2 linked regions of the Homo sapiens genome follow. The protein of the gene in region 2 purifies or fractionates together with the protein of the main gene of each other region. This does not show direct contact. Each region holds a gene or a part of one and is shown on either strand. Other genes may lie near its edges.

Region 1 (3,514 bases), 6.3 Mb from region 2:
CGTTCTACACAGCTGGAGGCGGGGGGGCGGGGGGGGGGTTGTCCATTCTTCCATGTGCATGGTAGTAACAGCTAACAGGCAGATTGGCTCTGGTGCTGTGGTGTTTTGTTTGTTTTTTCCTTAAGAGTCTCATTGTTGCTAGGGCTGGAGTGCTGTGGTGCAATCATGGCTAACTGCAGCCTCAACCTCCCAAGCTCAAGTGATCCTCCTGCCTCAGCCTCCTGAGTAGCTGGGACTACAGACATGTGCCATCACATCCAGCTAATTCTTGTTTTGTAGAGACGGGGTCTCACTATGTTACCCAGACCGGTACTGAACTTCTGGGCTCAAGTGATCCTCCTGCCTTGGCCTCCCCAAGTACTGGGCGTGAGCCACCAAACCCAGCCAGTGGTGCTGTGCTTTTAACCACTGTTTATTAATTGCATCTGAAAGCGGGATGTCATTGACCATATTCTTTCTCCAAACTCAAGCCATACATTGATTTAGCCGAAGCTGCCTCTAAAGCTAGGACCAAAACTTTTTAATTCTGGGAAGAAAAAAAAAAGGTTCATTTCCCAAGGACTCACACATAACAGATGTACACAAAGCTTTTTGAGTTTTATTTTTTTCCTCAGGTTGGAGATTCATCGTAACATGCATGCATTTTCAAACAGTAACAGGGTCTCAAACTTTTTAAAGCAGACGTTAGACAAGCACAGGGGATTGAAAATTCCCATTTAAAAAATGGAAACTGCAGTGGGATATGGAGAAGTCACACACTTGGTGGGGTGGTGGTTTGTCCTGCTTCCCCAAAAGGTGGATATGAACTTAATTCACATTTTTTAATTTCAATGATCTGACCTGATGCTGGGATGTGCCGAGCAGTACTGCCCCCTCCCCCAAGGGTGTTGGCTCCCACCGCCTCTCACAGTGGCTCTGCGCAAGGGCAAGAGGCTCCTGTGGAAACTTCTGCCCTGGGATACTGGCACAAGCTGCCAAGGGACAGCTGAGTCTCCTTTTCCCCATGGGGCACTCTTCATAAGTGGCACATTCTAGAGGAGGGAGAGGGCCACGGTCACTGACCCCTGCAGATGGCTGGTAGATTGGGGAACAGTTGTCTGAATGGGTTTTCCCTTTCAGGACCTCCTGCCCGCATGACTGCCAGGAAGAGATGAGGCTCCTAGACTTGGGGGGCCACAGGTTTAAGGCCAGAGCTCTGAGTGTTGTTTAAACGCACTGTCCCTTCTAGCCCCCAACACCTGAGTAACTCACATGCTGGGGTGCTGCAGTTTTCTCTCCCACCCTGAATTGGTAAAAAGACAACTGGGGGGTAGGACTGGCTACTGCAAAAAGTCCTGGGTCTTTGGTCCACCTCCCCAAGGTATGCCCTGGCAGACCATGAAGACAGGAAAGGCAGGGCAGGAGTGTAGCCTCACGCCCTGAGCGCTACCAGCAGGCCTGTTTGAGGCCAAAAGCACAGGCAAGAGAAAGAGTCAAGTAGGGAGAGGGGATAAAGAGCTGCCTGTGGTGGGAACTTAAGAGACTGCCACTGAGAACAGCCACAGGGGCCACTCGTGGCGCCTGCCACAGACCAGCAACCCCTGAGCTAAAGAAGGAGAGGTGGAGCACTGCTTCAGTCTGCGCCCCTCAGCTGTGGCTTCCCGGCATGCCCTGTGACCCCAAGCCGCAGGGTACAGGAAAGAAGTTTGTGCTGGGGGACTCAAAGACCCAGAGGTTAATTAACAGGAACCAGGGCCAGGGGCCTTCATCTAGAGGTCAGTGGAGTCTCCAGGGCACTCATCACTGTGGCTGGGAGACTACAGTGTCTCGGCTGCGGACTTGTGGAAGAAGAGGGGGAAGGATGGGAGAAGGGGTGACTGGATGCCAGCCAGGAATCCTGGCCTTAGCCCTATCCTGGCCTCGCCTAATCAGCCATGTCGTTATTCTTACACCTTTCTTCTTGGGAGACCCAACATTATTCTGAGATGCCATGAGACTGTTTAGCTTTTCTTCATGGCCCCAGGGAGTGAGGCTGAGGGCAGTCACTTCCCCTCCAATGCCCTCGACTGCCCAGTAAAAGAATGGCGGGACCCAAGGAGGAAAGAGTGGGGGCAGACAACGCTTGGGGGATCAGTCCACTTTCTCTACATTCAAACTGCAGACCAAATAGAATACCATGACAAAAAGAAGAGAAAGGAAACTTGTATAAACCAAGATAAATAGCTTTTAAACATTTGAATGCCAAAAATTGGGGGCCAAACTCAAGGTTTTGAAGATAGCACAGCGAATGACCTTTAAAAAAAAAAATTGAAAATCCACCAAACCACAGCTCAAAATGTTATGACCCAGTCAACAATACTGTCAGAAAAACAAAAAGCATTTGAAACAGAATGCTACCTCTCAAAATGTAAACAATATACAAAACACACAAACATACACACACACACACAAACTCAATGTTAAACAAGTTAGATACCTGGTAGTCGTCTTTAACCAGTAAGAATGTGTTACACTTTCCATACACATTATGGCAACATGATCAGCAGACCAAATGCAGAGAAGCCGGTAGGAACCCGAGGCCACGGAGGCTGCTGGAAGACAGCTTTCCAAGCTTCAGAGATGCTGCGCCTGACGAGGAGCAGATCCAAACTTCCATTCTTCATTATGACGTGGGGAAATCAAGTCCAAACATTATTCCTACATAATCCCTTTCCCAAGTCAAATTTGTTTTCTCCATGAGCCAGTTGGTTTCAAGTTCCCTAAGTCATGTAGTGGTCTTGCGGCAGTTGTTCAGACCTACCTATGGCCCCTTCCTGGGGCCAAGGCAGTGGTTTGACCCCCATCTGCCTCTTCCAGAAGGTTTCCCATCCAATCCAGCAGCCCCAGTGAAGTCCAAGAATGCCGTCTCCATTCTTTCCTGACCTATATGCTGTGAGTCAGGCACAGAGACAGTGCTGGTTCCTGCTTCGGAAGCTGGGCTTGGCCAGGTTTGGAGGGAGCCACAGGAAACCAATCTATTCATTCAAAATGGTTTCACAAGCGATCTTCACATCTTTGGGGTTATCTACAAGTCTGACCATATCTCATCCCAAATCCCCAGTTCCTGGTTGAGGGGGTGAGAAGATGCAGGAATGTACCTCCCCCAATGCAGAACAACAGAGCTGTTTCTCTCCTGGCCAGAGCAGCCTGTGGCTCAGTTCTGAGGGCCTGGGTGGCAGGCTCCGAAGGCAGGTGGAACACCTGCAGGAAGCCACTCCTTCCAAAAAAGCCTGTGGGCTGCAGATCTGCTAAAAGTCTAGAGCGGGGCAACAAGGAAAAACAGCCCCAAGGCTGAGGCCAGGTCAAAACCCACATCAAGCCTCCAAACTGGATTTCCTGGATCACATCCTCATGTAACTAGGAAGCCACCTCACGTTTGGACACCACACTCTAAGATGGGGGCACCTTGCTGGCTGTAACTCTCCAGGCACAGGGAGACAGATCTCCTACAAGGTCATCCCGGAGCTTAACGAGGTGTCTCTGCTAAAAAGCACTC
Region 2 (3,648 bases):
AAAGCTGCAGTGAGCCATGATTGCAACATTGCACTCCAGCCTGGGCGACGGAGCGAGACCCTGTCTCAAAAAATAAAAACCAAAACCTACTGCCAGTTTCCCCAGGGCTTCATGCCTCAGCGCTCCCTTCTTGCTTTGAGAAGGGAAGGGGAGCTCAGGTTCCGGAGCTGGAGGGAGGAGTCCAGGAAGGCCTGGGGTAAAGGAGGGCTTAGGGGCTAAGCTCGGGGTCGGGGCCAAGTGGAGTGACTGCGCTCCTCTGGGGGAAGGAGGCTGGGATGGCCCACGGGAGGACAGAGGGGAACTGAGGGCCCACAAGTGTCCTGCTCCCCAAGTCTCCTGGCAGCAACAGGCTTGCTCCTCATAAGTCACAATGAGGGGTGGGCTGAGGACAAGAGGAGCTGGGGCCATCTCAGGGCCCCAGGGTTGGAGCTCACTGAAGTCACATGAACACCTTTCTGTTCTTCAGGAGGGGCCCAGGCAGCCCTCAGCACCCAGGTGAGACCAGCGCCTGGTGAATGGGCTGAGTGGGCCAAGTGGGTGGGCTGGGGGGCTGGTACTCCCACCACCTGACTCCAGAGGAGGAGAGGGCTCTGCAGGGGATGTGGACTGGCACTCGCAGAACCCCAAGGCGAGTGAGGTGGGCCCTCAGGAGCGCTGGATGCGGATTTGGATGAAGAGCGTGGCTGGTGACAGTGAGGCCCCGTCCTTGGAAAGCAGGTGTATGTGGCGGTACCCTGTAGGGAGGACAGCCAGGCCTCAGGTCCTCTGTGCACCCTGGGGGTCTGGCCCAGCCCGGGCCTGCTTCAGGGCAGGAAATTCGAGGCACAAAGGTGAACAGGGTCTGCAGGACCTGGACCCACATCCCTCTCCATCCCCACCAGCCTCCACCAACCTTGCTTTAGGCTGCTAAGAGGCAGTGTAAACTGGCCCACAAAGTCATTGGGGGAGGTGGCGTCATAATCTTCCACCACAAACCGGACCAGTGCCAGCTCCGGAGCCCGCAGCTGGAACTGCAGGGTCTGCCCCCAGCGGGGGTTGAAGCCTAGGGCACAGGGATGGCAGTCAGAGCCCAGGGGCCCCAGGACCCACCCTGCACCACCCTTCGCTCTCTGCAGTCTCCCCCAACCCCACTTCCGCCAGTGGCTGCCCACCATTGTTGAGCACGTAGTCAGTCTCCTGCCGGGCACAGTCTGCGGGCACCCCATGGATCTCAATGCGCACCAGGGGGTCCACAATGGAGTGTGGCTTCTCGGCATTCAGCTTGGGCAGCTGCTGTGCAGTCAGCACCTGTGGGTGAGGGAGGGAGTGGCTGGGGCCCACGCCCACCTTGGCCATCCCCTCATGGGCCTCAAGCTCACACCACCCTCACTTCCAAATGTCCCCAGCCTCCCTTGCCTTCCTCCACCTCACAAAGAGCCTTTCTAGAACCAGTCTGACCCCACACTGGGGCCCGTTCCAGCCTGCTGACCTGGATGCTGAGAGTGGTTCTGGGAGGTCCTGGGTACTCGGGGTCAAAGGTCGAGTCAGGTTGCCGCAGGCAGGCAGGTTTTAGGACGTAGCCACACTGCCCATTGACTAGGAAGCGCCCGGCATTGAGGTCCATCTCGTAGCCTGGCGTCTGGAAGTTCAAGGCCACTGTGGACACAGCAGGGTCAGAGCAGGGGCTCTTAGCGGCCCTGTTCTCACTACTCAGTTTCAGGGGACTGCATTCCTCTCTACAAAGGGCCTGGGGTCCCACTGTCTGCTTAGTGCTGCTCTGCTCCCACCATGACTTTAGGGGAGGGGGTCATGGACCCAGCCCCCACTGTCACCTGTACTTCTGCCCTGGGATCCCTCAAGACTGGGGTGGGAGGTACTAAAAAAGCCCCCACCCTCAGGGCCAGGCTTGGGTCAGAGCCAGGGGTCTGAGGAAGCCTGGGGTTTCCATCCTTACCCCAAGGAGACGATACAGCCCTCCTTTGGTGGGGCTCAGCGTCCCCCAGAGCCCACCCTTGTCAGTGTTGACTTAGTGGGACTGCCAGGTGTGTGGGGGTTGTGTGTGTCCGGGGGACATGGGAGTGGAGATTTTAATTTCTACCATGATAAAAATGCGAGACCTGTACACTGTCAAGAACAAACGAGCCTGATTTGATTTTCCCACCTACATTGCTGGCAACTTTAAAAATAATCAACAAAATGCGTGTTTCCACCGTCTGGAAGGCTGTGTGGGCCCCTCACTGCTGAGGCCTCCCCCACACTGTGGCACCCCGCCTGCTCTCATTCCTGTGGCCCCCACTTACCCAGCTGACAGCCCGAGTTCCACATCTCCTGGGGACTGTAGTTGGCTGAGTTCATCCGCAGCCCCAGCGGGTACACGCGGGTCAGCTGGCGGGCATTGTGCCTGACAAAGCTGTTCCCTGGGGCAGAGTTGGGGTGAGACCGTGACAGACTCCGGGGGTCCCTCACCCAAAGCCCCGGCCTGTAACCTCCAGGGAACAGAGCCCAAGCCCGTCCCCAGGTCACCCTGCCCCCGCTCCTCACTCTCTTCTGACCTAGAGTGAGAGGGGAGCTCACTGAGGAGGCTGCAGGGACCCCCTCCAGCCACACAGCCTGGCCCTGCATCCCCAGCCCCCAATTCCCAGCTCCTGACAAAGTTCCAACCAAGTACACTGAATGCCCACGGCCCTCCAGCTCCACTGTGGTTCCTGGAATTCTTCTCCAGGCCAAGGCCCCAGGCCTTCAACAACCTGTTCCTCCTGTCTGGAAAGCGCTCTCCCCTCTTCACCTGGCTGCTTCCTAGTCCTCCAGGTGATGTGTCCTCTCAGCATCACCTGCCCCAGGAATTCCTCCCCAGTGTTGCAGCAGCTGCTGGGCTCCCCCAGCCCCCAGCCCAGCCTGACCCATCACCCTCTATGGCCGGCCCCACCACAGGGCTCTGAAGGCAGACAGCAGGCCGCCCTCAGCGTGCCACTCCCCTCCATCCACCCTGGCATGTGCGGGGCCCTCATTCCCTCAGCCCAGCCCCTCTTTGGGGTCCTCTTGACCTCTTTACTGTCCCCCAAAGCCCCCTCAACTCCTTTCCAGACTCCCTTCAGGAGGTCTCTCACCCTCTCGCCCCCAGACACCCAGTGCCCCAGCTCCTACCTGCCTCCCGAATGAGTTTCTTGGCTTTGCGCTCGCTGAGGGAGCTGACCTGGCAGGGTTGTGGGGCGTTGGGGGCAGGGTGCAGGGTCCGCAGGCGGGTGGCGTGGCAGTACACAGCCAGGGCCGACAGCTCCGGGGAGATCTGCTTGGCCTAGGAGACCAGGCTCAGCGGGGTTCAGCTGGCCCCCGCTTCCCACATCCGTCCTCCCACCTTCCCCCCCTTCCCCACCCCACCCATCCCAGCTCTCACCAGCCGCCTCTGCGCTGCAGCCTCCACCTCCTCTTCTTCCTCCTCGTCATCCTCCTCCTCCTCCTCCCGATCCGACAGAGCCCGGCCATCCTCGCTCCGAGCAGCGGGCAACTTCTTTCCCTTCACCAGGACCCGGCCCTTCAGCTGCTGTGGGGGCCAACGTGGAGGATGAAGGGTTAGGCCTTCTCGCCCCTGTGGCAGCCAGTCAGTCAGTTATTCAACCACCGCCTTGTGAGGGGCTGGCTAGGGGTGGGAGGCAGGAAAGGAGACACAGA

What was found. The genes of interacting proteins can lie anywhere in the genome.
Region 1: the proteins of PLCD3 (region 2) and PIP4K2B purify together in Homo sapiens (affinity purification with mass spectrometry; one large-scale study listed by BioGRID and IntAct). This does not show direct contact.

What each region holds. Positions count from the first base shown.
Region 1 is NC_000017.11:38,765,113-38,768,626, forward strand, and holds the end of PIP4K2B (phosphatidylinositol 5-phosphate 4-kinase type-2 beta), read right to left. Parts: 3' UTR 579-3,514; downstream 1-578. UniProt on the Homo sapiens protein: Participates in the biosynthesis of phosphatidylinositol 4,5-bisphosphate. Preferentially utilizes GTP, rather than ATP, for PI(5)P phosphorylation and its activity reflects changes in direct proportion to the physiological GTP concentration.
Region 2 is NC_000017.11:45,111,971-45,115,618, forward strand, and holds part of PLCD3 (1-phosphatidylinositol 4,5-bisphosphate phosphodiesterase delta-3), read right to left. Parts: intron 3,617-3,648; coding exon of another isoform or gene 3,587-3,616; exon of another isoform or gene 3,539-3,586; intron 3,521-3,538; coding exon 3,374-3,520; intron 3,275-3,373; coding exon 3,124-3,274; intron 2,532-3,123; coding exon of another isoform or gene 2,397-2,531; coding exon 2,280-2,396; intron 1,636-2,279; coding exon 1,469-1,635; intron 1,288-1,468; coding exon 1,152-1,287; intron 1,043-1,151; coding exon 893-1,042; intron 735-892; coding exon 646-734; 3' UTR 1-645. UniProt on the Homo sapiens protein: Hydrolyzes the phosphatidylinositol 4,5-bisphosphate (PIP2) to generate 2 second messenger molecules diacylglycerol (DAG) and inositol 1,4,5-trisphosphate (IP3).